4 linked regions of the Homo sapiens genome follow. The protein of the gene in region 1 interacts with the protein of each later gene in a pairwise test. Each region holds a gene or a part of one and is shown on either strand. Other genes may lie near its edges. The genes, in order: MTERF4, BANP, ATXN1 and OSGIN1.

Evidence for each region.
Region 2: the proteins of MTERF4 (region 1) and BANP interact in binary tests that used the Homo sapiens proteins (3 or more experiments, as listed by UniProt).
Region 3: the proteins of MTERF4 (region 1) and ATXN1 interact in a two-hybrid assay, tested with the Homo sapiens proteins (one large-scale study listed by BioGRID and IntAct).
Region 4: the proteins of MTERF4 (region 1) and OSGIN1 interact in binary tests that used the Homo sapiens proteins (3 or more experiments, as listed by UniProt).

Annotation. Positions count from the first base shown.
Region 1 is NC_000002.12:241,091,457-241,099,342, reverse strand, and holds the end of MTERF4 (transcription termination factor 4, mitochondrial), read left to right. Parts: intron 1-1,915; coding exon 1,916-2,100; intron 2,101-2,904; coding exon 2,905-3,345; 3' UTR 3,346-3,772; downstream 3,773-7,886. UniProt on the Homo sapiens protein: Regulator of mitochondrial ribosome biogenesis and translation. Binds to mitochondrial ribosomal RNAs 16S, 12S and 7S and targets NSUN4 RNA methyltransferase to the mitochondrial large ribosomal subunit (39S).
Region 2 is NC_000016.10:87,955,458-87,962,626, forward strand, and holds part of BANP (protein BANP), read left to right. Parts: intron 1-4,413; exon of another isoform or gene 4,414-4,536; intron 4,537-7,169. UniProt on the Homo sapiens protein: Controls V(D)J recombination during T-cell development by repressing T-cell receptor (TCR) beta enhancer function. Binds to scaffold/matrix attachment region beta (S/MARbeta), an ATC-rich DNA sequence located upstream of the TCR beta enhancer.
Region 3 is NC_000006.12:16,750,137-16,757,305, reverse strand, and holds part of ATXN1 (ataxin-1), read left to right. Parts: intron 1-3,214; exon of another isoform or gene 3,215-3,263; intron 3,264-3,958; 5' UTR 3,959-4,073; intron 4,074-7,169. UniProt on the Homo sapiens protein: Chromatin-binding factor that repress Notch signaling in the absence of Notch intracellular domain by acting as a CBF1 corepressor. Binds to the HEY promoter and might assist, along with NCOR2, RBPJ-mediated repression. Binds RNA in vitro.
Region 4 is NC_000016.10:83,957,854-83,965,022, forward strand, and holds part of OSGIN1 (oxidative stress-induced growth inhibitor 1), read left to right. Parts: intron 1-1,406; coding exon 1,407-1,543; intron 1,544-2,715; coding exon 2,716-2,907; intron 2,908-3,127; coding exon 3,128-3,219; intron 3,220-7,169. UniProt on the Homo sapiens protein: Monooxygenase catalytic activity. Involved in regulation of cytokinesis; promotes RHOA activity, probably acting locally at the midbody in late cytokinesis.

The sequences.
Region 1 (7,886 bases):
AGATCTTTGGGAGGCCGAGGCAGGCAGATCACTTGAGGTCAGGGGTTCAAGATCAGCCTGGCCAACATGGTGAAACCCTGACTCAACTAAAAATAGAAAAATTAGCTGGGCTTGGTGGCACGCACCTGTAATTCCAGCTACTTGGGAGGCTGAGGCATGAAAATCGCTTGAACCCAGGAGGCGGAGGTTGCAGTGAGCTGAGATGGCGCCACTGCACTCCAGCCTGGGTGACAGCAAGGCTGTCTCAAAAAAAAAAAAAAAGATTTTATATAGTGTGACAGGAGCCAGAGGTGGGGAAAGAGCAGCCTAAGGTGAGATGGATTAGGGGAGGTTTCTGAGTATGTCAGTGTTCCTGGAGAGGACTGTATAATTTGGCTTGGAGGTGAGGAATAGGAGTGGCTTTCTGTGCAGAATACATTTTGAGAGGGAAGGAGGAGGAGTTAAGACTAGAAGAAAAAATTGAGTGCCAGGGCAGAGACTCTTGTCTGCCTTGTTCACCGTGGGATCTTCAGCACCTAGTGCAGTGGTGGGCATATGGTATGTGTTCAGTGGGTTGATGCTGATAATGTGATGTTGATAAATATGTGTACATATAGCATTTGATGTTTAAATCAACATGAAATGGTCTTAGTGCTCTGTCTCTGTGATGTGATGTCAAACCAACATCTCTTGTAAAGACTTAGATTCTAGTCGAGTGTTTAGATTTACTCTGGAACATGAGAGATCTGGCCAGGTTCCTGGGATACTCGTGGAGTGGCCTTCCCTTCTATTTATCCCCCACTCCTGCCCCCAACAATATTCACATCTCAAGGATGCTCAAAGTTCCTTGAATCTCTTTAAGGGCCTTCTGGAGGAGTTGGGGGTCTCCAAGGACCCTTACCCACTTTGACCAGAGGAGTTCCACTATTATTTCTTTGCATTATTGACTCTTCCTGGTAAGATGTTTTTTGAGGCAGTGGTAGAAGGTTTAGGATCCACCATTTCACAGCATCTCTACAGGCCTCCTTCTCTAGAAGATAAGAAAAAGGTAGCCTTGTATATTTTTCTTAACAGATTCTTACAGTGTAATCTAAAAGTCTAAATATATTATGTGTGGTGGTGATTAATTAGCAAACTCAGCACAGCCTTAAGAAATGAAGATAAACCTAAACTGAAATTCCTCACATATTAAGATAATCACTAACTCAAATGTTAGGAAAATTTTAATTAACAGTTTAAATAGTTGACTTTAAGTTTCCCATTACTGAATTTTGCTCAGCTATCCCTAGGAAGGCCTGGAATAGTCCCAGTTTACACCAGTTAGTGCGGTTTTAATAGGGCCTCTTTCACTCAAGGTGCCCTGGCTTGGAGAAGATATATGGTGACCCTGGTAACCAGGACGTCAGCATTGGTGTTGTGTGTCCTCATGATTACTATTATTGTTATTACTGTTATGATGACGATGGTGATGGAACTCCTTTTCATTGAGTTCAGCTTGAGAATGTTAGTTGTGAATGCTTCAATGACTATTTTATTATAGAAGGAAACATCAACCCAAACCAGCAATATGGAGGAAACTACTCTCCCATATTACTCTCTGATCTTTCCAGTAAATGCCTGGGAAATTCTTTTCCAAGTGAGGAGGGCAAGAGGAGACCCAAAATACAAAGTTGGCACCTTTCAGGTGGGAGGCCAGAATAAAGCAGGAATATAGGGAGGGAAGGATGGTGAGTCTGAGGAGTGTCAGGAAGTCAGTGGGGAGATGTATCATTTCCATGGTGCTTCTGGGAAGATAGATCTGAAATTGCCACTTGCTCTGTGGAAGGAGAGGATCCTTGTTTGTTTTTAAATGTGGACTTAAATTGGGTGCAGCTAGCTCCTTGAGTTTCTGGAGTATCCTGAAATTATATGCTTGCCTTTTTTGAATGTTCTGCAGGGAAATTAAAGAGGGTGCTTTACTGTTGCCCTGAAATTTTCACCATGCGCCAGCAGGACATTAACGACACTGTCAGGCTTCTCAAGGAGAAGTGCCTTTTCACGGTACAGCAAGTCACCAAGATTTTGCACAGTTGCCCCTCTGTTCTTCGAGAGGACCTGGGTCAACTGGAATACAAGTTTCAGGTGAGAATGACTGATAGCGTGATTAGCGTAGTTTCAGGTGAGAATGACTGGTAATGGGATTAGCGTAGTTTCAGGTGAGAATGACTGGTACCGTGATTAGTGTAGTAACAGCAAGTTTCTCAGGTTTTTCAAATGTAGTGAAGGTCAGTTATATGGATAAGAAGCCTCGGACACCTCATATTTGAGTGGAGGAAGTGAAAGACTAGATTCTCTGCATACATCAGCCAAAGAGAAATCTTTAATTTCTTTACTACAGATCAAACCTATTCTTCAACTTTTCTGCCATTAATAATGAATGATCCAGTCCTATTCTTAGAGTCTAAGTGGGGACTCTGAAATAGCTAATTTTAAAATAGCTGAAACCTTCCTGTCCTTAGAATCTATTTTGCATGTTGATTTTGAAAATGTAATTTTAACAGTTGTCCGATTTTTTGGTAATAATTATGACAACTTAGGTCGAATTTCTAGATGTTTTCTGAATGTTTTGCCTATTCTTTCCATATTCATCCTTTTCCTTCCCCATTTAAAGAAAAATACCACCTCTTCCTTCTGCCCCTTCTCCCTCCTGCCCCTTTTCCCTCCCACCCCTTTATTTCCTGCTCCATGTTTCTCAGGATGAATTTGAAAGTGTTTTGAAACTGCTGGCTGTCACACAAATGTCAGTATCCTAGACTGGGTATTCGCTGTTGTCAATTAGGCAATTCTTTTTGAATCCTTTTGTACAACTTAAGTTTTTATGGTTTATAGAATGATAGGTTTCAATACTCTGTATCTGGGACTCCTAAGTGTGTTTGTGTCTTCCAGTATGCATACTTCAGGATGGGAATTAAGCATCCAGACATTGTAAAGAGTGAGTACTTGCAGTATTCACTAACCAAGATTAAGCAGAGACACATTTACCTGGAGCGCCTGGGACGGTACCAAACCCCTGATAAGAAGGGGCAGACACAGATCCCTAACCCATTGCTCAAGGACATTCTCAGAGTTTCAGAAGCTGAGTTTTTGGCCAGGACAGCCTGTACTTCTGTTGAGGAGTTTCAAGTTTTTAAGAAGCTCCTGGCTCGGGAGGAGGAGGAGTCTGAGAGCAGCACATCTGATGACAAAAGGGCAAGTCTGGATGAGGATGAGGATGACGATGATGAGGAGGACAATGATGAGGATGACAATGATGAGGATGACGATGATGAGGACGACGACGAGGCGGAGGACAATGATGAGGATGAGGACGACGACGAGGAGGAATAGCTGTGATGGAAGGACTAGAGCGAAAGGGCCCAGAGATATCAAGGAAGCTTTTCATTCTCTTAAAGCTTTTGGGTCCTTTACTTGAATCTTCTCAAGTTATTTTTTATTCTAAAACTGGTCTCTTGATGAAAAAAATTATAAGTCACCTGAGAGGCAGACAGATCAAACCAAACAGGAAACAGGAAATGCATGTTTGATCTGTTGTCACGTGTCTGTGGGGAGGGCCCTGTCCCATCCTGAATAAGATACTTATGTTGAGCTATTCACATCAAGGGGACTCAATATATCAACAATTGGTTTTATTTTTTTCTCTTTTGAATATGTTGGTGATAATTCCGTGACAGTTGGAAGATGGGGTTCATTCTTCCGGTTCAGGAATCACTATGTATTTCCTTCTTGTGATAAAAATAAAATTACGAGAAGGCAATGTGAGGTTTTAGTACATCATAGCACTTTATTTTATGAAAACATGTAGCAGATTTTCCACAAAAATGCTTATTTTTAATCCAAAAGTATATTGCTTCATAATGGTATTCAGTGCACAGCAGAGTAAAAGAAGTTAATTCATGATGTACTGGTTAATTTTGCATGGCTTCTTAAGGCCAGCAAAATGCTGGCAGTTTTCTTTATCTTTGTGAAGAACAGGCCCTTCCTGTTTGGGGAAGTTGGCTTTTATGTCAGCTCTTGGCCAGTGGTCACTTCCAAGCCTGGTGTCTCCGGCCCTGTAGTCTGTAGTGCCAGACTGTGCTGGCCTGGAGAGTGCTGGGGCAGGTGGAGGCCAGGGAATGGTCCCATACAGTTATCTCCCCTGCCCTGGTTACAGACAGCTTCGAGAACCAGAGGAGAAGAGCATAGGGTCATGGAGCAGGTGGGCTGAAGCCAGGGCCACAGGGAGCAATCCGTGACCCCCCAAGGTGGGTGTGGGGGGGGGGGGGGGCGTGTCACCTTAGGGAACTCAATGAGTCCGAAGAACAATTTGAAATGTTGGGAAAAGAGAAGAGGAATTTGATGTCAGCCGGGGTGATCCCTGAGATAGAGGCCTGTCTCTGATGGCATGAGCTCTAAGAGGGTCCTGGAGGATTGGTACATCCTAGAACATTCCAGTTAGCCCTCTTTTAGGGGAAACTGGCATAGGATTGATGCAGAAGGCATTTTTGATGATGGGACCAAAATTCAAGTCTCCTTGGTAGCATTCTAGGATCAACTAGATCCTAGGATCTGGTAGATTGTAGGATTCTAGTGGGTAGAGGCCAGGGGTGCTGTGAAACATCCTGCAGTGCACAGGATGGTCCCACAAGAGAGGATGATCCGGCCCAGAATGTCAGTGCTGAGCCTGAGAAACTCATCTAAGGCCTGGTCCACAACAGTAATGTGACTGTTCACTCGTGACAACTTCAGATGGTAAATGGACTTAGGATCGTATTATTTTATTTAAAAGAAAAATAAGGAGCTGGTTTTTCAGCCGGGTTCCTTTCCCCTATGCACTGGAATACCCCTGGTAGGTGTGAGCTGCATGCAATTGTGGGGATTCAGCACTGAAATCTAGGTGCTTTTGTTTTCTCCAGCAGCCTCGTCTTACAGCGTGACTGCAAAGAAAAAGACTTTTGTTTTGCAAAAGAAAAGCAGCTCGGTGACTCCGTCCACATCGCCACAGTTGAGTCAGATGGCAGTGGCAGTCCTTTGCCAGTGGAAGGAGTTCCTGCTAAGGGGAGGTGCAGGAGGTGAGCTGATACCTGAGTGGGGCCCTTGCCTGTTGGGTTCTCTACTGGAGGACAGTGGGCACAGCAAAGATTCCCTTACTTGTACCTGGCAGCCCACACGCAATGGGGAAAAGGGAGAGTTTGTCTTTATTGCCTTGCTTGGCCATAGGCAAAACTGTTTGGAAATGAGACATTTCACTGTGCCAGTGTTTTCATTTTCTCTTCCATTGTGGCATCCCGGTCACTGCCACCCTCCCTAGAACCTAGGCTGTTGTTGTACCCAGTCGGAGGACTAAGTAGAATCCTCAGTCTGCACTTGGTTAGATGATCAGTCCATCCCGGTTTCATTAGCAGATGGGTAATTCAGCAACTCAGGATTGCTTCTTTCATTTTGATACAGAAATCTTTATGCTCCTGACAGTTTTCTGATTCTATTATTACTAATTTCCTTGGGTGGACTTTGAGTATTTTCAAGGAAGCCATTTGAGTTTTTAAAAGAAGCCACATGGGAAAAGCTGTGGTGGCCTCTTTGGAATGTTTCAAGAACGAACTGTAATTCCTGAGCACCAGGAAGTCTTTTTACTTGATATTTAATGTGGAAAACATCCCAATGGGCAAGTCCTGTGACAGCACTTGGGACTCAGGAGCCAGTTCTTGTTGACACAAGGCTTCTAAGCTAACACTGGAGCATATTAGCATTTGCTGTGTGGCACCAAGCTTGGGACTCAGGAGCCAGTTCTTGTTGACACAAGGCTTCTAAGCTAACACTGGAGCATATTAGCATTTGCTGTGTGGCACCAAGCTTGGGACTCAGGAGCCAGTTCTTGTTGACACAAGGCTTCTAAGCTAACACTGGAGCATATTAGCATTTGCTGTGTGGCTGAGGGGCTTGAGGTCCTAGTAGGGAGTAGAAAGTTTCCTAGTAGGATTCACCTACTTTTCCAGTGATATCACTCGATCTTAGCATCTGCTAGTAATGCTGTAGCTTACATGGACAAACAGTGACAGGTCCCAGGGCGGCAGGAAGTCCGCAGTACGCGTTTGTGAACGTGGTTTCTCTCAGTTCACCCAGTGACCCTTCGCTGAGCTCGAGACCCTTCATTGAGCTCCACCTTCTGCTCTCAAGTGGGTCTGGAGCCTGGGGAACAGCTCGGGAGTACAGGTGAAACTTCGCGAATTGCCTGTTCCTTCTTTCTGAAAATGACAAATTGCAGAATACACAGACACATGCACATGAAATTTTAATAAAGATAAAAAGCCTAAAATATACTCTAACTCTTCAAAAAACATTTTTATGAAAGAGGAAAGGAAGGAGGCCCTCTTTGTGGCTGGAATGCTGGCTCTGAGCAGAGTCAGGGTGACGCGGCAGGGCGCTGGCTTTCCAGCTGGGTCAGCGGTCGTGAGGCTCAACACGAGAGGAGGTGGGGTGGCTGCTTTGGTTGTAACATTAGCAGGGGGAAGACAGCTGCTTAGAAGCATGGTGGGAAGCAGATGTGGTGAAGTGCCGTACTGTTCTGCTTACAAAGATGGGGATGTCTAAGATCGTGTTTACTACCTGATAGCCTAAAACAGTATCACTTGAGTCATGGACTAAAAGGAACCTTAAACATTGTCCAGCCCAGCCCAGGTGTCCATCTCTGTTGCACTGAGACTTGTAAGGCGTCCTTGCTGCTTCGTGGCAGTGTGCCTTAGCTTTCCAAGCAGGGGTCTGAATAGCTTTTTCCATGAAAATTCAGGGGTCTTTCTTTGATACCCTTGTGACTTGTCATTCAGGGGATGGCTTCCACTGTTTAAGGCTGAAGCCTAGGTGATCTCATAGAACAGGGTTCACCAAATAAGGCCCATGGGCCAATTTGGCCACCACCTGTTATTGTAAATAAGTTTTTATTGGAACATAGCCGCAGCCATTCAATGACATGCCTGTGGCTGTGTCTGCGCTACTGTAGCCACAGGGACCTCTGGTCTGCAAAGCTGAAAACGTTTACCGTCTGACCCTTGATAGAGAAAGGCTGCCAGTCGCGCCGTTGTCTAAAAAAGTCTGAACTCCACCTTAGTGTTAACTAGTCCATAGGATGGCTCGTCGACCTGCACGAGCGTCATAAACACGCTGGAGGACCAGAGCAGGGGCGGCTGTGTCTGCAACCCGGCTTTCCTTCTGACATCACCTGGTCTCTGCCCTTCAGCCCCTGCCCCCGTCTCTGTTTTGGAAGTGGTCCATCACAGTTCCTTCTCAATTTGTTGGGCCTCGAAGGGAGAATTCTTTCTCTGGCTTTGGAGTCTAAGAACAGGTTTCTGCATACTGCAGAAGCGTGGCTGACTGACAGCCTCACTGATTCCGGGGAATGGCGAGCTGTCATCTCATCCGCAGAGACACAGACTACACCTTCAGGAACTGCAGCTTGGGTGAGGGCACAGGCTGCTTAAACGCATCGCAGGACTCACAGGTGGTTGGTCCCAGAGGGGTCTCTCAGGGTGGGCTGGTGTGTGCACAGGCCTGGCCATCTGTCCTCTAGAGGCCTGAGGAGAGAGGTCACAGAGGGGACTGACTCCAGCTAGGACCTTTTCTCAGGGTGTCCTTTTTCATCCAGTTTTTAGACCTCATCTTCCTGGGTGTTAGAAACTCGTGAGGTTGGTGGAGTGTAACAAGAACGTCTTAAATCCTTTGAAGAAAAAACAAAGTGAAGCATGAGGAGAATGACAGGCATTCCCACTCCTCTTTAAATGGGCTGCTTCCTGCTTCTCTTAGTGGCCCTCAGGGCCTCTGTCACCCAGAGGACCCCACGTTCTTAGAGCACCAGGATTCTACCATATGGCAGTGCACACGGGGAGGACCCCGCGTTC
Region 2 (7,169 bases), on another chromosome or scaffold:
TTGACGTCTTATGTAACCAGGCATCCATATAAACGCCAGAAAGTTCACAGCATTATTGCGTAAATGACAGACCTTATTCGAACTTCGGTTTTGCACCAGTGTCCTCTTGCTGTTTCGGGATCCCCTCCGGGACCCCACACTGGTGCGTGTGGCCGCCCTGTCTCCTTAATGTCCTTCTGTCTGTGATATTTACATAGTCACAAAGTATCTCCCCCAAGATACACGTCACAAAGGGAAAAATAAAACTGTAGCCTCTCGGTGGAAAAACCCAGCAGATACTGTGTGAAGCAAGTGATCGGGGTAACACCATCAGTCATAAGACGTTGACACCAAGGACCCAGTGAGACACATCACTTCTCTGGCAGTGTTGCCAGAAATGCAGTCTCATCATGAGAAAATGCTGCACCCAAACTGAGGGATGCTCACCACAGTCCTGGCCAGTGCGTCTCAAGTGTCCAGGTCTTGAAAGACAGGGAGGCTCAGAATTTCCTGCAGGCAGGTGGCCAGGTGATGTGTGTGCACCCTGGTCCACACGGAAGGCCTTCCCACAACCTTGAGGGAGGTGAGGGAGTAGGGGTTTGGGGGCTCCAGGCACAGGTGCTGGGCAGTGGGCCTCAGTGGTCTTGCAGCTCCCCCGTCAGGATTGTTAGCCTTTGGGTTCCTCGTCTGCAGTGATACTGTACAAATCCCAAAAACTCCAGTTACACGATTAAGTGATTGACATGACATGGAGTCGCAAGGCTGACTTGAAAATGACTGTAACTCACAGCACCAGTTTAGCCACTGCAATCTAGAGAAACTAAACATTTCCTCATTTTGAAGGAAAGACTTCTTGGGGAAAGTCAATTTGAGGGTTTGAATGAGAATGAGATGAAAGCTTTAGAAGGTCCTCCCTGTGCCTGAGGTAGATAAACATCTGTATTTTCTCTTCACACGGGTGACGGTGGTGAAAGCATGACATCATCTGACTTGGTCAGCAGAAGTGCTCTGAACCATCCGGAACTTTGGGGGCCTGGGGGCCGTGGGGAGGAGTTTCAGGAAGTTGAAAACAGTATTGGGTGGAATCACACACTTGCAATTTGCTCTGAAAAAGCTACACTTGTTTTGTTCTCAGCTGCACCTGGGGCCCTTCAGCCCCTGCAGGAGAAGAATGGGGCGAGTGATTGGTACGTGGCCTTCCCAGCCTGCAGAGCCGCCTGCTTTGGTTGTAATCATAGGCAAGCTCAGCCTGCTTTGGTTGTAGTCGTAGACAAGCTCAGGTTTCCGCCTCTGCACGTCCCGGTGGGCTCGCCTGGGACTCCCTTTGTCTGTTGTACAAGACTCCACTCTGGCCCCCCCTTTGGAAGAGACGATGTCTCCATCCTCAGGAAGTAGAGAAACACTCTCCGCCACCCTCCATCCTGACCCCCGTGCAGAGGATGAAGTGCTGTCCCAGAAGCCCCCTCTCAGGGGTGCCGTAAGTCTCAGAGAGAGGAGCACCCCGGGGCCTCCGTGGCAGAATCCTGTGAGTGTCTTTGGTTAAAATGTGCAGGAAGTGTTAACTCCTAAGCTGCCAGCAGATGGTGTGCCGAGATACTGTGAAGTCACATGAACTTGATTCCTGTTGGAAAGAACCACTCTGCAATCCTTCGCGTCTACACTTCGTCAAGAACCGTCCAATTTGATTAAACATTCTGGATCGTCAGCGTTCACGGTGGAGCAGACTCCACGACTCGCTGCTCCCATGGGAGGTGTCTCTCTGGGGAAGGGGTCAGTGGTGGTGGAGGATGGCGCGGTGCTCCATTCGGAACCCACAGGTCGCCAGCTTACAGCGTGGGAGCTGTGGAAGGACACATGGAGCAGAGGCGGCTGAGGAGGTGAAAGGCTGAGAGGAGGCTGCAGTGAAACACCTGAGGAAGGCTGGGCAGAATGGATCGGGGGTGTGTATTGGCTGCAGTCACCTCCCCTCTGCTCGTCTGTGTCCACATTCTGTCGTGGTTGAGACCGGATCCTGTGTGGACCGGGTGGGCTGGTGTGGAGTCCTGTCAGGAGACCTGGGGCGGTTTTGAGGCAAGCTCACGGAGGCCTGCCGCAGGGCCCTGCGCTGACAAACCTTTCGCTAGTGACCAGTTACCTTCTGTGTCTGAGAGAAGGCCGTTGTGGCCTGTAGTGATTTTCCTTTTCCCTTGAGATGAAAAGTCATCAAATATCTGGAAGCAAAGCTTAATCTTTCTGAAAGTAGAAACGCGTTTGGATGGAGCCGGGAGGGAGAACTGGGTGCGCGCTTGGCATTTCCTTGCCGGTGTGAATGCGCTTCCCGTAAATATGGCAGAACGCCTTCACCTTTCACCAGATGACGCGGGGGGAATTGGGCCACGGTCCCTGCTGTCATCATGGCATGCTGCAAGCTCTGTGGGCGCTGGTGGCCAGGATGCGGACAACCCCTGCCGCTACGTGTCCTCAAGTGAGCTCAGCTCTTGTGTCGGTGGGAGCTGGCGGTGGGTCCCTGAGCAGAGTGCTGCCGCTGCCAGTCTGCGTTTTCTGCCGAAATGCGTCCCTGAGATTGAGAAAGTTCACACCCTAAGTGTTTTTAGAAGGCTGGGTGCCCTGTTTCCCAGCCAACAGTTGTGACTGTCAGTGGGCAAACACAGTTTGCAATAATTGGCCTGTTGTCTTACAATTTCTGGCTCTCCTCTTTGTGGTGTAGGTCATGTTAGGTGGTGGTCCTTGGTCGTTTGTGCCACGTTCCCTCATGTTCTTGAACTCTGAGTCCCTAGAAACTGACATTGGTCTTATTTTGAGTGCATTATTTTTCAAACTTTGGGTCTGAACCCACATCAATTGAGTGGGCCATGGCCAGTGTTAAGAATACTGGATAAAATGGAGCATGCCTTGGATAAAAGGAGCATGGTTCGGAGTGGCTAACGGGTAGGTATCGACTCAGGAAACTTGCAGTGATGAGTGTATGAACTTACCATCGTAGGCCCCAGTCGAGAGCGTGGAAACCACTCTTCTGTGATGTGTGTCTACTAGCGGGTGGTTATGCACAGCATTTGACTGAATTTGGGTAACTCTGGATGTAGTGTATAAAGTACTTTTTAAAAGGCCATCCACTGGGCCAGGCATGGTGGCCCAAAGCTCCCAGCGCTTTGGGAAGCGGAAACTGGAGGATCACTCGAGCCCGGGAATTGGAGGCTGCAGGGCTGCAGTGAGCCATGATTGCACCACTGCACTCCAGCCTGGGCGGCAGAGTGAGACCCTGTCTCAAGAAAAAACAAGCAAAAACTATTCCCGTTAAGCCGCTTGCTTAGGGGTGACTGTGATTGAACATGTGGCTTCTCATCCAAGTTGATTTTAATCTCTATGGAGATCAGACTAATAACCTCACAGTAGAAAATCCACCAGTGAGCTCAGCGGCACAAACTCACAGCCCAGCAGTGTTTGCAGAGGGGAAGGCCCAGAATGCGTGGAGGCTTCGGGATCCATCCTTTGCAGACATAGAGAATTCTCATGGGGGAGGGAGGACCTTGCGGCGCCTTGGCAGTGAGGGGAGCAACCTCAGCATGATGTTGGCACGTACACTGGGGACTGGGTGGTGACACCGTGCATGCCCACAGGGGTGGAGATCTTTGTGGAGTTCACTGATGGATCCCAGAGGCCCAGGACGGGATGGCACGCTTTTCTGTGAGGGTCAGAGTGTAAGTGTTTCTGGCCTTGTGGGGCGTGGGATGTCTCGTGCCACTGTGAAGCCGCTCGACTCTGCTGTTGGGCTGAGAAGCAGGCACCTTGTTTGTGGACGCTGACATTTGAGTTTTATGTAATTTTCTCATCATGAAATATTGTTCTTTTGTTATTTTTCTGTTTTAAAATGTAAAACCCATTCCTGGCTCACAGGCTGCATAGAAGCAGGTGGAGAGCTGGGCTGGGTTGTGGGCCCTCACGTGCCACCCCCTGACCTAGAGTGTGTTTGCCCTGGGAAGGAATAAGACGAGGTTGTGTAGAGAGGCAGTGGCTGGATGGGGAGAGGCCTGGGCCCTGCACAGAGGAGCTGAGGTGTGAGGCTGCTTGCGAGGGAGGCGGCTGACCAGGCTTGGTACTAGCAGGCTCTCCGGGGAGGAGGCCCCCTGGAGGAACAGCGCTGGCGTCAGCCACAGAAGGGCTTAGCGGCCATGGTCTTCCTGCTGCAGCCCGTGTGGTTTTGGGAGGGACACATGGAGCATTGGAGGACAAAGAGACGGCCAGATCGGAGTGTGTGTGGCAGAGGGGCGATGCCACCCTTCGGAGCGATGGGTGCCAGGGTACTCGGTGAGAGCCCAGGTCCCGGGTGAGGGGGTGGGCTGAGGGGGAGTCAGAGAGGGAGGAGCCTCGGGATGCGGAAGGGCGAGAGCAGGGCGATGAGGGTGGGGCCGCAGGGAGGTGGCCGGGACTCCTGGTAGTATTCTTGGGGAGAAAGATAACAGGGAAGTGAGGAGGGTTCAGCTGTGGAAGTGCTGGGATGGCTGATCCGAGTGACCATGGCCTAGACGGGGTTTAAACCCTGGACTGAAGAAAGTGCCGGTGAGAGGTCAAGGCAGGAGATGGAGACCTGGGGGTGACAGGTGTCCCCGGCACCTCCTACCCCCACCCTGGGAGACAGTCCCAAGGGGCACCTTCACTGGGGGCTGGCCCTCATGCACACCAGCCAAACCTCCTGCCCACCTTCTGGGGGCTTCTGGAGCAGAGCAGAGGCCCCGCGGACCGTGAGGATGGCCACAGGGAGGGGAGATGCGAAACACTGGCCGTGGCAGGTGCCCACGCAGTCAGGAGCTTGCTTGTGGGGCTCTTGTCTGACACCTGGGAGATGAATTTCAGTCTGATGGTGGATCTGGACCCAGATGGCTTGCTTGGGATTCAGCAGCTCTTGGGAAGAGCCACACTTGAGGATGGGCTTGGGTGAGGGTTTGGAACGTGCTTAAAGAGGTTGGCAGGCAAGGATTTGGTGGTAGCAGGTGGGGCACATCGTGTATTGGCAGGGTTTTGTTATTTTTATCCTAAAGACATACTTATTTGCAAACCTTCTATTTTGGAACATTTTGAGATGTATACATATGTGGCAGAGATAGCATAGGGAGTGCCCTTGTGCCTGGTACCCAGTTTCTCCCGTTGCTAACAAGACGCATGACAGCAGTTCATGGCACAGTGTTGGGTGTGCCCCGGCCAACTCAGCAGATGAGCTGTTTCACAAAATCAGTGATTCTGCTCTGATAAAATGGCAAGTCCACGGAAAGCACTTTCATTGTATTTTGAAGTTGGGTGGTTGTTGAGGGATTATTTGAGTTGTAGTTGAACTAGCTGCTCTTTTCATGGAACACTATAAAAAAATAATTTACAGATTACTGACATCTCTTACTAAATGAGTGAAGTTAGCCTCTCACCTCAAAGAAGTCAGCTAACAGTGTTTGTTGCCAGTGATAAAGTTTGAGCTGTCAAGTGAAGTTGGAGTTTTGGAAAGTTTGTCTTTGCCACCGTGAGCCCGAGAGCTCCCAATAAATCAGATGCCAGTGCTAATGCTGATGAACCGTATGCTTTTGATATTATAGACTGAACAACATTTGCAAGAGCTGCCTAACTCGGTGAAGCAACATTTTCCAGATGGTCGATGCGGGATCACGCCTGGGTAAAAGATCCATTTAGAGTACAAGTCAAGCCAATGGATCTTAAAGCCATAAAGTGCAGAAGCTCATGGATACAGTTCACATTCCATATTGCAAACAGCCTTTAAGGAAAAATAAAACACACTTGTTGCGTGTTGGTGTGGTGTCAAAGAGGAATCTCCATAATTATCTGAAGAGCCTATTAAGATACTTTTCCCTTGTCTAACTGCATCTCCTTGTAAGGCTGCATTTTATTTTATTTTTTCGTACTTTTTGTAGAGACAGGGTTTTGCTGTGTTGCCCGGGTTGGTCTCGAACTCCTGGACTCACAGAATCTGCACCCCCCCGGGCCTCCCAAAGTGCTGGGATTACGGGCGTGAGCCACTTCCCCTGGTGAGGCTGCCTTTTTGTCATATGCATCGACCAAAACAACATATCGGAGCAGACCACCGGTGGAAGCAGATAGGAAACTCTAGTTGTTTTCAATTAAGCCGGGCATTAGAAATTTGTAAAAATGTAAAACAATATTATCCCTCTTCTCATTAAGGTTTTGTTGTTCTTTGGAAGCTATAGTTATTTTTCATAAAACATGTTTTGTATGTACCATGAATGTTTGTCCCCTTTGAAACTCATGTTGAAAGCTGGTCCCCAGTGTCACAGTATTAAGAGGTGATTGGATCATGAGGGCTCAGCCCTCAGGAATGCGTTCAGTGCATTTATAGACTAATGGGCTCTCCTCGTGGTGGGTTAGTGATCATGACAGGGCGTCTGTTATAAAAGCCAGTTTGGGTGTCTCTCATATCCCCACCAGCAGGAAGGCACTCCTCAGATGGGACCCCTGGACCTTGGACTTCTCAGCCTCCTGAACTATAAGAAATGCATTTCTTAGGCTGGGCGCAGTGGCTCATTCCTGTAATCCCAGCACTTTGGGAGGATGAGGTGGGTGGATTACCTGAGATCTGGAGTTCAAGACCAGCCTGCCAACATGGTGAAACGCTGTCTCTACTAAAAATACAAAAAATTAGCCTGGTGCAGTGGCGTGCGCCTGTAATCCCAGCTACTCTGGAGGCTGAGGCAGGAGAATCACTTGAACCCGGGAGGTGGAGGTTGCAGTGAGCCGAGATCATGCCACTGCACTCCAGTCTGGGCTACAGAGCGAGACTTGGTCTCAAAAAAAAAAAAAAAAAGAAAGCACATTTTTTTCCTTTATGTAATAAATTACCAGTCTCAGATACTCAGTTATAGCAACAGAAAACGGAGTAAGACAGCGTTAATATGTAATGTGTTAATTTGTATGATTTTTACATGAATTAAAAAATATTCAAACATTTTTTGTTCTAATTTCAAATATGGTAAATATCGATAGGTAGAATCTGTACAGGTGCAAGCTCTTCAGGACCCTCAGTAGCTTTAGAATGGTGAAGAGGACCCTGAGGCCAGAAAGTCAGAATTACTGCCTTAGAGCCTAGACGCTTCTTAAGATGTGTCCCTGGAAATTATGCATGCTCAGGTGAAATTATGCATGCTAATATATTCAGGTTTGGAATTTGACCACTT
Region 3 (7,169 bases), on another chromosome or scaffold:
AAATGTACCTGGTGGGAACCGCCAAAGGCAATATTTTTCCTTGCGGATTTCGTTTTAAGAGGGTTTGGTAAACAGAAGTGACACTTTGTCAAAAATGTTACGACTAGACTTCAGGACTTCTGAATTGTCTTTTACACTTAGAGGAAGATTAAACAGAAACTCTTTAGCCACAAGATTACATGTCAAATGCCTGTAAGTTTCAACATACCTAAGTCAGTTGCCTAGGAGTCCTGGGAAAGGCCAGTGCTGAGATTATTGAAATATTAGTAAACATTACTATGACTCCTGTTTTTGTTGTCATTATGGAGTCCAAGGACGCACATTTCTTTGAATAATGTTGTGCCTTTATTGTTTTTCATTCTGAAATGTCAAGTGGATTTTACTTTTTTGCACATACCTTGAGTGACAGTTTCTGATGACTAACACTAACACTCATTTTGTTTCCTATTAAAAGTTAAGCAATAAACATATTTTACTAAAATTCTGAAACTCACGTAAGTAGGTAAATGTGGGAGTGAATGTTAATTCTTTAAACTGTAGTTATCTGAAAATAACACATAGATTAGGATCTGAACAGCTTAAATACTTGCATCGGTAAAGTGACAATAGTGAAGTAAGACAGGCTATTATTTTTAGGGGAGAGATAGATTATTTGACTTTCCTTGCTCTGTATTTTCAGAGTAATTCAATAGTTCGAATGATTAGTTTCTGTGAGAGATTTAGATCTGTGCAGCTTAATTGCTTCAAATAACAGATTTAGTTCTGGTCATACTTCCAAGGTTATCAGAAGCAGGCCCTCCTTATTTTGATAAAAGCATTGAAAGCAATACATTGTAGAAATGGTAATAGAAATAATAATTTCTGTTTTAGGACCTTACATATAGAACTTCCTTTTCTAAGATAAGAATTTTAAGTCATCAATTATGTTCACATTTTATTTTCATGTAATTTAGTTTAATAAAATAAATGTACTCATTCAAAATTTTTTTAAGAAGTGATATACAGTGTCAGTTTTACAGAATTTTTTAAATGTTGGCTGAAAGAACGGTAATTACATTGAGATTTTTAAAAATATATAAATGCTTAAAATTACAGAAGTAATAAAAAGAATGGTTTTAGACAAATCTTATGGAAAGTTTTTTATTTTATTCTTTTATAATTATATTTATGGATATTTGTCTTTATTAGTGTAGTAATATATTTTATAACGCTCATAATTTGAACTTTCAGGCTAATGTACTATAAATATTTGTATTACGCATTACTACCATCCCAAATGTACCAAAACACGTTTAGAGAGAACAATTATGGACAAAAAAGCAACAAGCATTATATTTTGTTTGACATATTTCATGTTAGCAGAAATGTTTCATTGATTTTTCTGTAACTTTTAATGCATCCCATTTGTGGAGTAATGAAAATGTAATGATAATTGCCACAATGTAAGCAAAAATTGTATCCTACCTGAAAATTACTTTCCAGAAAATTCATGGTAGTGTACTCAGAATTTGAGACTCAAGAGGGCAGAGGTTTCCCCGATTGTGATGTTTTGATTTGGGCTAAGAGGAACTCTTTTTTTTTTTTTTTACACTTAGGTGCCCTTTAACATGACAAGTTTTGAATGAGTTAGGTAGCAGAAGTTTTTCGTGACAGTTATTGTAGCTACTAACCTATAGCATCTATCCTTCTAACGTTCAAAGAAAATATATTTTTCTGTCACTGTGTATGGCAAACTTTATTTTCTTGTGCCCTTAATTTTGTTCCCCTTTCTCACATTATCTCCTGGTACTTACTGACCATTACCTCAGTTTTGTTTAGGCCGTCTTTCTTGTTAATCTTCCAATATTAATAGTATTGTATTATGTTGCTCTGCTGGGTTTTAAAAATATTGAGTATTCCATTTTTGGTGTATATTATTGTATAAAATGTCCTATAAATTATTTTCTGGTATATTATTTTGTAAGTTTTTGCAGTGAATACGTGCTGCCTTGCTTGTATTCTTGCCTTCTTCCCTCTGATGGAATACAAGTTATGTAAACTCTCTGTATTATCCTAACTAGTGCAGCAACACAAATACTTTTGAAATAAGAAAGCATACTCATGCAAGAGTAAAGTAATCTTCTATGGCATTTACATCATGTTTGACCCTCCTCTGCACTTCAGCAAACTAGGAGGAGGTTGTAACTTGGACTCTATAAAACCTTATCTGCCAGGTGATATGTAAACAGGATTGTGTGCACACACATTGTCATATAGGCAAACACTCTCCCAACTGGTGAGCTCATAAAAAGCACTGTCTGTAAATTTATGGTACCTGCACCTCATTTGAGAATCAAGTATTTTGATGCTTAATTTGAGATGACATCATGATCCTCCCTCCCTGCTTCCTCATCCTTAAAGAAGTACTAAGATTAAATAGAATTTTGTCAACTTCTACTTAACTTGGCCATTATTTATATTTGTAACTCAACAGGCTTCTTGGTGGAGGGACTGTGCCTTCTAAAGATCTGAAAGACCTTATAGTGTATAACAGCTTACCTTCCTTCTCTGTACGCACAGATCACATGTGGGGAAACCAAGGACTACAAGAATTCCTTCTTTTGCATATCAGTCCTCGGCAGGCAATCAATGCTTAAATAAATGCTTGGTGAATGGATTAGTTAGAAGTAAGAACATTTTGGCTACTGTTCATTACTTTGAAAAGTGCTGGAAAGAAGTGGAAGTTATTTTCCTTTCCAGCTGGGCTGTGCTCTTAAAAATAGTGAGTGTGTATGGATGAAAATAATCATGAGTACCGAGATGTGTTGCCATGTACCCAAGGATAATTGGCTCACTTACCTGTTTACGGATTATTCACATTGGAGATCATATTCATAGCTCCAGAATAGTTTCTTTCTGACATCCAATATAAACCTGGGCCTCCTTCTTCCTACTGTTACCTGGCGTGAGCTTAGGAAACCCAAACTAAGTTTAAAATCAGCCTAAGCAAATGTGCAGATCAGCTCCAGTAATCAAAGACTGAAAATCAGTCCAGCATTCACTAGTTTGGGGATGATTTTATAGTAACCCTGCTACTGATTTTAAAAAAATTTTTTTTTCTGTTTAATGTGGATAATTGGTAATTACCGGTATTTAAGAATATAATTTTAATGGATAGGGCTAAAAAAATACGTTAGCAGATCGAGTCCTCAACTTCTTCCGTTTCTATGCATAGGTTTTACCTCACAAAAACTACTACAAGCACCAAGCTCCCTGATGGAAAGGTATATGGAAGATTCATTCATTCTTTCTTTCATTCATCCATTCACACATTCACTCATTCATCATACAATGGAAAATTTTTACTTAACCATGTGCAAGGAATTGTGGCAAAATGAAAATGAGATGTACATTCAGTATTTAAATAAAGTTTAGTGGAAAGTTTAGTGAATATAAATGCACACTTTACACTTTTTTTCTGCATTTTTTCCTTTCTTCTATTCCATTGGACTGGTATGCTAATAGCTGTGCACTTTCATCATTGTGTTTCAAGTTGCATGTTGATAGATAATATATGCCACATTAAAATTAGGCTTTGGCTCAATTACTATTCAATCCATGCCCATTTTCACCTGATACTCCTTGTAGTTACCAGCATGTGTTTATCAGATGATTGGCTAGAATCATTGGAGAAAAGAATGACAGCGGCTGGCTCAAATGGGGAGACCATCCTCTTAATTTGATGGAAGGGATGACCTTTTTGTATGTTGGCCTCCCTCTGAGCCTTGTTGAGTAAAACCAGACCTGCCTTTTGAGCTGGCTGGGATCTGTGTAATTCTCATACAACAGAATGCCGAATGTGATGTTCTTAAAATTTGTATTTCGGTGCATAGACACTTAAGGTGGACTTATTTTTTAAAGCAGTCTATTCTGTTTTTCATTTTGGATTTCCTCTCCTGCACTCCCTCGACCATTGCAGGAGCATCGTGCATCAAGTCACCAGGGTGGTCCATTCAAGCTGCAGATTTGTTTGTCATCCTTGTACAGCAATCTCCTCCTCCACTGCCACTACAGGGAAGTGCATCACATGTCAGGTGAGAGTTTTGCGATGCTCTCTGTTTTCCATCTGAGGATAAAGTCCTGACCTGGAAAATTGCCTCCTAGCCATGCTCCCTTACTTTGTTGGCTGTTGAATATCATTTTCTTTGCAAACTCTGTTTGGGCATAGTGTGGGAAGTTGAGAAATTGCCAAGATTGTTTTTTAAAACTTCGATTAAAGTATCTATCTATTTGGTTTAATCTATATGTTCATGAAGACTTTCATTTGACTTTGCGATGATTGATAATTGCCAATTGGGGCTTGAACCTCATCATTTTAATTGTCAGTTTTCCTTAATACAATTAAGAATGCTATGCTACCAGATATCTTAAGTCACAGTTTTTGCATTTTAGATTACTGTTGTAGTATAATATGTGCGTAGCAAAACAGAGACCTATTTGTTTAGGGGAACCAGTATTTGTTGAATCTTGAATTTCTTTGTGTCTGTTTGGATTTTACAACTTCCTGATTTTCCCACGTACAGTAAGTTTTTCTGGCCTGGAGAGTCATGCAGACATAGGGTGTATGCAATGGTGATGACTCATGGTTCTCTATTGAAGAAAGGGCCAGAGGATATTGCCTCAAATTAAATCAGGAAGGAAAAAGAGGTTTGCTAGAACTTGGGGCAGTAAGGGCTTGGGAACACAAGGGTTTGAGTGTATGTAACCAAGGGAGATTGTGAAATAGAAAATAGGGGATCAATTTCTATTTGCCTTGGAAATGGACCTGCTTGAAACTGTGAAGACAGACTAGATTAGAGGTTCCCAAGCCTGGCTAGGCAACAGAATCACCTGGAGAGCTTAAAAAAATAGAATTTGGAGCTCCACCCTAGACTTGATGAATCAGAATGTTTCCTGCTGGAATCATTGATCTGTCTAGGCACTGATGCTCCACAGGTTTGGGAACCCCTGGGTCGGCCGGTCTTCCAGCAACTCTTCCTAAGTTATGTTCTGTAGACTTAGTTGGTGAGAAGCTCATTCTACTTTTAGCAAATCTCCCATTTGAAAATTTGAATTTTCAAAACTCATTTTTCAAGAGGTAGATGGATATTTGCTTTATAACAGGTTCATTTAAACAATAATTGACCAGATTTCTTTGAAGAAAGAGCTGCCTCTTTACCGTAAGAGCCAATTTTTAAGTTACATATAAATTCTCTGGCATCTTAGATAAGAGCATGGAGCTCCGTAATCAACCCATCTGGACTTAAGATCTGGAGCTGCCACTATGACCTTGAGTAGTCCTATGTCCTTTCAATGCCTCAGTTTATTCATGTATAAGATGGAGGTAATATTAGAACTTTCTTATAGGGCTGCTGTGAGGATGGACTGGAGTAAAATAGTAGATATACTGTGGGTAGAATAGTACCTGGTGTATGGTTTGTATCTTTTAACAGATGCTATCAAGTAACTTATCCCTCAACAGGTTGATTGTTATGGTCATGTTTTATGATGGTTGCTCCTGAACCATACATGACTAGAAATATGTAAATATACCTGGACCTTGGTCTTTGGACCCACCCTGTAGACATCTACGGCTCTGCAAAGCCAAGGAGCCTTTTATTTGTTTTTGCTGAATTTTAAATTCTGAATTTATCACAACTCTCTGACTGATGGGATGCATGTGTGGTTTTTTTTTTTTTAGATTGTTGTAAAATGAACTGATGAATTGCATGCATAAATGTGGTTATTTGTGGTCTGAGTAAAAATAAACAAAAACCTGAGTGACTGAAGTATTATGCCTCAGGAAAAACAGCCAAAAAAGTCCCAGTGGGGGACAAGGTGGAGGAGGGAAGAGTCATCACAGACACGATACTCTTGTAAAATATGGAACTGGATTCCTTACATTTTATTGGCTGTGGATTAGAGAGGTGTTCTTTAAGTGGAAATGTAACCTAAAGTTACATGCAAAGGTAAGCCTCTTAAGATCTACAAGTGTCAGCTGAATGAAAAAGGTAGGGTGGGCCAGGCACAGTGGCTCATGCCTTTAATCCCAGCACTTTGGGAGGCTGAGGTGGGTGAATCACTTGAGGTCAGGAGTTTGAGACCAGCCTGGCCAACATGATGAAATCCTGTCTCTACTAAAAATATAAAAATTAGCCAGGCATTGTGGCAGGTTCCTGTAATCCCAGCTACTTGGGACACTGAGGCAGGAGAATCGCTTGAATCCTGGAGGCAGAGGTTGCAGTGAGCCCAGGTCTCGCCACTGCACTCCAGCCTGGGCGACAGAGTGAGACTCCATCTCAAAAAAAAAAAAAAAAAAGAGAGGAAAGAAAAGAAAAAGGTAGAGTGTCTTACTGCTACTTTATCTCTTAGGGATGATACTCATTTTAACGGTTATGTGCTAGGCTGAAAATCCTCACATTTAGATCTTTGGGGAAATAGTTTAATTGCAAATGGGTTGAGTACACGTGCATTTTTTTTAACCTGTGGTGTTGAAAGGGAGTCATTTGTGATAACAGAAATATCTCAAGAATTTTATTGTGAAAAAACAGGCAGCAAAAAGTCATATCTCTTGGTCAATATGGGCAGCTTATTGAGAAGAGACCTAGGTTTTTATAATATGTTAGGCAAGTTTAAGTGTCTTATGAATACTAAAATACTGACGAAGTAGCGCAAAGTCACCTTGAATTTTAAGCGCTGACATTTTCTATGATTGCATTTAAAGAAAGCTTATAAGCATTATCTAAACATTTTGCATCAATAATGGCCTCATTACAGTCCTCACGATTGACGGCTCAACGTAGGCAGAAAAATAGTATCATTCATGTTGTACTCTTTTATATTCATTCAGTTTTTTTCTTAAACCTACATTATAGTTCTTTCTGGTTCTAGTTATTTTATAAATATGATACAGCTATAGCAAGTTATGACCTAACTTGTTCACAGTCACTATTTATGTAAAGAAATGATTCATTCATTTATTCATTGTGAATTTTTTTAAAACTACTGCATGGTGCTGTGGGAATGGAAGTGAATAAGAGCTACCGGAAGGCAGTTATTTTCTTCCTGGTCAGGCAGGGGAAAGAAGAAACTCTCTGAAATAATGAATACGAATAGAATGGGGTTCTAACAGTGTTCTAACAGTGAAGGAA
Region 4 (7,169 bases), on another chromosome or scaffold:
TTATTTTTTATTTATTTATTTATTTATTTATTTATTTATTTGAGACAAAGTCTCACTCTGTCGCCCAGGCTGGAGTGCAGTAGTGCAATCTTGGTTCACTGCAACCTCTCCCTCCCGGGCTCAAGCGATTCTCCTGCTTCAGCCTACCAAGTAGCTGGGATTACAGGTGCATGCCACCATGCCCAGCTAACTTTTGTATTTTTAGTAGAGATGGGGTTTCGCCATGTCGGCCAGGCTGGTCTCGAACTCCTGACCTCAAGTGATCTGCCTGCCTCAGCCTCCCAAAGTGCTGGGATTATAGGTGTGAACCACCATGCCTGGCCCAGGCCTGGCCTCTTTACAGTGGTCTTTAAATTAAGCCATTGAGCGTTTACTATGTGGCCAGTGCTAGGCTTAGCAGTTTATAAGCTATCATTCCCTTTCACACTTCCGAGAACCCAGGGGTCTAGAACACACCCATCAGCTGGAGGCGACCCGGCGTGGCGCAGGGAGGCCTGGTCCTGAGCCCACACTGATCCCATGACTACCCTGTGCCCAGCACTGTGCTAGGTGCCCACATGAGAGGACACACAGTAGCGGCTTATGATTCCTGTCCTCTGTCTGCACAAATGGGGACAGATGACCCCCCAGTATGCAGGCGTCCGATTAAGCCACGTGAGATGGTCATTTCTGTAAGGCAAAAGCAGATGGGTGCCTGTGATTTCATATGGTTCTTCCTGGTATCCTGCATATGAGTAATATTCCGAATCAGACGAGATAAGAAGAGGGGAAAGGACAGATAAAAAGAGAAGCGCTATCACAGGGCTGTGCCTGGTGAATCGCCCAGGAAGCGCCACAGATGGCAGCGCAGTTCTTCAGACGTGCAAGCAGCAGACCCAACAGGCGGCTCAGCACCCCTGAGCGCCCACAAGCACCCACCACTCAAGTTCGCCCCCAGGCCACGTAGCAATCTGTGCTACATTCACTCATCCATCTGACCTAGTTCTTAGCAATCTCAGAATCTCAGTCGCGTCGTCAGATATTCCCTCTGTCTGGGTTTTAATCCCGGCTCGTCTACCTTCCGGCCGTGTGACCACAGGCAAGTAACTTAACCTCTCTGTGCCCATTTCCTCAAGTATAAAAGGAGGAAAAGAGTGGCACTTACCTCGCTAAAGCTGTTGTGAGGCTGTTGTGAAAGCTCTCAGTACAATTCCTGGCACAGAGTAAGCTCTCAGCAGTTGTTCATTCCTTCTTTTTAAAAGTATTATTAGGCACAGTGTCTGGCACAGGCTAAGGGCTTAATAAATATTTATTTTTATGAATGAAGGATAAATGAATGAATGCGCCGCATCTAGATCAAAGCCCTCCACAGTAGTGTCCCCCACCTGAAAAGGCCACCCCCTTTAACCTCCACCCTCTCTCCCCAGGTAACGGCCCCTCTGGTATCTGCCTGTCCTACCTGCTCTCCGGCTACACACCCTACACGAAGCCAGATGCCATCCACCCACACCCCCTGCTGCAGAGGAAGCTCACCGAGGCCCCGGGGGTCTCCATCCTGGACCAGGTGGGTCAGCCTGGGGCCAGAGCTCTGGGTAGTACATACCCGCCCTTGGAAAACTACCGCCGCTTTCCCAGGGAAAAACAAAAGTGTGTGTTTGCTGGAAACAAGACTAAACAAAGAATTCGAGAGTCCACAAAGTCAGCCACGGAGATCGTGAAAGAGAAATCAGAGACCCACAAATGCCACACGATCTAGGGCTCACTATGCCCTAGGCCGGTTGTTCTCAAGGAGGGGATGATTTTTCTCCTCGGGGGGCACCTGGCAATGTCTGGAGACAATTTGGGTTGTCATGGCAGGGTGACGGTACTACCAAATCTAGCAGGGTGGAGGCCAGGGATGCTGGCAAACATCCAGCACTGCACAGGACAACGAGGGTGGTGAGACTGAAATATGTGTGGTGGAGCTTCTCAACCTTGGCCCCACTGACATTTGGATGACTTTGTTCTGGCTACAAAGAATGATCTGGCTCAAATGTCAGTGCGGCCAAGGTTGAGAAACTCCACCACAGATATTTCAGTCCCACTACCTCCTGCCCACAAGGGTTTGCAAATCCTCCCTCCGTACCCCTTGTCTTCCACTGTGCTCCTCCACGACCTCCCCTTGTCGACCTCCCTCGTCAGGCAGTGTACATCCTCCTGTTCCCTTCCCGCCCCTGAGTTGGAGATGAGGAAATAGGTCTTGACCATTTGATCTAGATCAGCATTTTTCAAAGTGCTCTCTATAGAATACTAGTTCCTCAGTATAATATAGAGAGAAAAATGTCCCCACTCCAGTAAAACAGGGACACACTGGGTTTGGCAAAATTAAACAGGTAAATGATGGCTGCAGGACTTGTCAGAGCCTTTAATATGCCCGTCTGTGTTATCTGCTGTTAAGAGGCAGCACCTCCCAAGCTGATCTGACCACACTGATATTAGGGTAGGGATGTAGGACCAGGCAATCGCTCCAGTCTCACCCAAGCTTGCGCATTTGGTCTGTACTCTGGGGCCCTTGGCCTCCTAGAAAGACCTCAAAACGAGAGCTTCAAACTACCCCCAGGGTGCGCATCTCTCTGAGACCCTCCAGTGCCAGGGAAATGGCCCGGCCCCAGTCCCCACGTTCCTGCCCAGCCTCAGGCTCTGGGAAGACGACCCCGCCCTCCTCCAGCAGCCCCTCTGACCTATGCCCCCCTCCAGGACCTGGACTACCTGTCCGAAGGCCTCGAAGGCCGATCCCAAAGCCCCGTGGCCCTGCTCTTTGATGCCCTTCTACGCCCAGACACAGACTTTGGGGGAAACATGAAGTCGGTCCTCACCTGGAAGCACCGGAAGGAGCACGCCATCCCCCACGTGGTTCTGGGCCGGAACCTCCCCGGGGGAGCCTGGCACGTGAGTGGGGCAGCGAGGGCATGGCTTGTGGGGGGCTCTCTCCCTCGTTCTCCCCACTTGGGGCTGGGACTCTGGCATCTCCCTTTCCTCATTCTCCACCCCGCAACCCTGCCTCTCCCTCCTCCCTCTACCCAGCCCCAGCAAAGGCCTCCCATGCCCTCTAGCCCCAAATGGGTTCAGGCGAGCAGAGGCCTGGACCAAAGGGTTCCTTTCCCTGCAGTCCATCGAAGGCTCCATGGTGATCCTGAGCCAAGGCCAGTGGATGGGGCTCCCGGACCTGGAGGTCAAGGACTGGATGCAGAAGAAGCGAAGGTGAGGCCGCCCCGGAACGCCTTGGGGGACACGGAAGGTTGGGCCTGTGAACCCAGAAAATCTGAGACAGGTCTCAGTTAATTTAGAAAGTTTATTTTTCCAAGGTTGAGGACGCGCCCGTGACAGCCTCAGGAAGTCCTAATGACATGTGCCCAAGGTGATCCGGCACAGCTTGGTTTTATACATTTTAGGGAGACATGAGACATCAATCAATATTTGTAAGAAGTACATTGGTTCGGTCTGGAAAGCTGGGCCAGCTTGAAGCAAAGGCAGGAAGTGGGGAGGGGGCTTCCAGGTCGCAGGTAGGTGAGAGATAAACAGTTGCATTCTTTTGAGGTTCTGATGAGCCTCTCCAAATGAGGCGATCAGATACGCATCTATCTCAGGGAGCAGAGGGGTGACTTGGAATGGAATGGGAGGCAGGGTGGCCCTCAGCAGTTCTCAGCTTGACTTTTCCCTTTAGCTTAGTGATTTGGGGGATTTCACAGGCCCCCCACAGTGAGCCCGTGAGCCAGAGGTACAGGGGCTTCAGAGTGCATCTGGTCTGTCTTCCTCTTCTTCCAGAGGGGGAAACTGAGGCTCAGATAGGGAAAGGACTTGTCCACCCCACATGAGTGGGGGTGAGCAGCAGAGCTGGGCTCACCCGAGGACCCCCTGTCCCGTGCAAGCAGCAGACCGCCCTGTCACATGGCCCCCAACTGGGCCTCCCCATAGTGCCCCAGCCTCTAAGGAGGGGGTAACACCTGGCCCCTGAGCCCCACGCCCTGCCCCGTGCCTCTGGCACAGGTCCCCCAGTCCTTGTGGTCTCCCTTCAGCCCTTTCCTCTATTCTGAGCCTGGCCTAGAACAATCTTTCTGGGTCAGCTAATAGGGTGACTTTCTTTTTTCTTTTCTTTTTTTTTTTTTTAATGCTTTTGCTACAGGTGAGTTTCATCCTTAACCATGAGCCCCCAAGTTGGGTAAATTAACTCACCTAAGGTCATGCAGGTTATTGGAAATGCAGAAGGAAAACAGCTCACCCCAAACCCACACTTCTCCACGCCCTTTCACTCCTGGGGTATTTTTTCCCCATCTGGCTTCCTGCCCCATCATGGCCACCCTAGAGAAAAGGTTTGTGAACCCTGAATATTTGAGATGGGTCTCAGTTAATTTAGGAAGTTTTGTTTGTTTATTTGTTGTTTGTTTTTAATGAAGTCTCCCTCTGTCGCCCAGGCTGGAGTGCAGTGGCGCGATCTCAGCTCACTGCAAGCTCCGCCTCCCAGGTTCAAGCCATTCTCCTGCCCCAGCCTCCCGAGTAGCTGGGACTACAGGTGCCCACCACCACACCCGGCTAATTATTTTTTGTATTTTTAGTAGAGACGGGGTTTCACCGTGTTAGCCAGGATGGTCTCGATCTCCTGATCTCGTGATCCGCCCACCTCGGCCTCCCAAAGTGCTGGGATTACAGGCGTGAGCCACCACGCCAGGCTAATTTAGGAAGTTTAATTGCCAAGGTTGAAGACGCACAACCATGACACAGCCTCAGGAGGTCCTGATAACATGTACACATGGTGGTCGGGGCACAGCCTGGCTGTATACGTTAGGGAGACTTGAGACATCAATCACTATATGTAAGATGGACATTGGTTCCGTCCAGAGGCGGGACAACTCCAGCAGGGAGGGGTGTTTCCAGGTCTCAGACAGGTGAGAGACAAACGGTTGCATTCTTTCGAGTTTCTTATAAGCCTTTCCAAAGGAGGCAATCAGGTGTGCATTTATCTCAGTGGGCAGAGGGAAGACTTTGAGTAGGACGGGAGGCAGCTTTGCCCTAGGCAGTTCCCTGCTTGACTTTTCCTTTAACTTAGTGATTTGGGGGCCCCAAGATTGATTTGCCTCTCACAGTTTCAATCACTGAATAAAGGAGTTCTAGTCCCTGCTCCTCCTGGGGTGCATCCACTCAATGAGAAGCTGCCCCAGCGCAGATACCTGGGTGCAGTCTGCCTCTCGGGAAGCCCTGCTTCCTCCGCCCCCAGGGCTGTGACCAGGCCTGTGTCCCCAACGGCAGGCACTCCAGGCGTCCCCCTCCAGGCCTCACTATCTCTTTGATGCGAAGACTCTTCTGCATGTTTGGCAGGAAGACTTCCAGGTTTGTGTAGCTACATGTTAGTAGGCAGCCAGAAACTTACATTTCGCTTGTAAGCACAGCCTTTTATAGGCTCATTTTGCATTTTCACATTGTATCCCAAGCGTTTCATGTGGTGAAGTCACAGCGTTCAAAACCATCCTTTTACATGGCCTCACAATATTCCCAAAGGCGAGTGAGCATCCCCAGTCCAGCAAATCTTCACCGAATGCTTATTATGTGCCAGGCCTTGGGCTTAGACGTCAGAGCACAAAACCACCGCAGACACACCCCCTGCCTCATGGCACTGCCAAGGTTACCCAGCCCCTGCCAGCCCTGGAGCATTCATTCTTTCCATTGTGTCATTATTATAAATAACTCTGCACAGAACATGCTCTTGGGACCGTTCTGTGTCACAATCTTTACAAAAACTGAGAAAAGAATGACTGCCCACAGAGATAAATTCCAGGGTCGCAGACGGGCTGCGCTGGGTTGACTGGCACGGCCTTGGGGGTCCATTGTCAGCTCCTGCTACATGTAGCCGGACGGCAGGTGGCACAGGATTCTCCCGTATGGGAGTTCATCTTGAACCATGAGCCCACAAGCTGGGTAGATTAACTCATCTAAGGTCACACAGTGAGATACAGGAAGGTGCTAGAATGATGCAAAGCCTGTCATTCAACCGCCACAAGAATGGGCCTGCAGTCACTGCCCCTGGAAAGAGTGACAATCCAAACAACAACAACAATAATAGAATACCTCCTGCTGCTGCGTGGGCTGGGAACGATGGTGAGTGCGTCACATGGGAGTCTTTAAATCAACTTTAAATCAACTTTTTGACTACATATAGGCTGGGTGCGGTGGCGCAAGCCTGTAATCCCAGCACTTTGGGAGGCCGAGGCTGGTGGATCACTTGAGGTCAAGAGTTCGAAACCATCCTGGCCAACATGGCAAAACCCCATCTCTAATAAAAATACAAAAATTAGCCAGGTATGGCGCTGCATGCCTGTAGTTCCAGCTGCTCAGGAGGCCGAGGTATGAGAATCACCTGAGCCCGGGAGGCAGGGGCTGCAGCGAGCTGAGATCACACCACGGCACTCCAGCCTGGGCAGCAGAGTGAGACTCTGTCTCAAAAAATTAAAATAAAATAAAATAAAATAAAATAAAATAATAAATTGGCTACATATAGAAAAGTACGTAACTCCTGTGAGTACAGGTTGATGAAATTTCTCAAGGTAAGCACAGAGAATGAAGAAGCAGGCCCCCTCCCAGAAGCCCCCATGCCCTTTCTGATCAGGATCCCATTCCCCATCCCCGGAGGTAACCCCTCTCTTGACATCCAGCTCCATAGATGAGTTCTGCCTGTTTCTGAACTCTGTAAAAATGGAATCATACCATATTTAATCATTTGAGGTGACAATCATGGTGGCCTATCCTTACATGGCACTTACTTCCAGTCAGGTTCCATCCTAAGCACTTTGTGTTTGTCAGCTCACCAAATCCTCCCCACGACCTCACGAAATAGGTCCTGCCACCAACATCTTCCTCATTTTGCAAACTGGGGAAACAGACACAGCTCCCTGATGGCAGAGTCAGGATTCGAGCCCAGGCAGCGGGGCTCTGGAGGCTGCCCTCTGAACCCCACCCTACACCACCCTAGAGCATCCTACACCACCCTACACCACCTCTCCTGAGGGAGGCACCCTTGTTAGCTCCATTTTACAGAAGAGGAGACTGAGGCTTAGAGAGGTTGAATTACCTGGCCTAGTCCTACAGCTACAGCCTAGTCCAGCTCCAGGGCCTGACACTGCCCTGGACATCTCCCGTCCCACCCAGCCCCCCAACCCCTA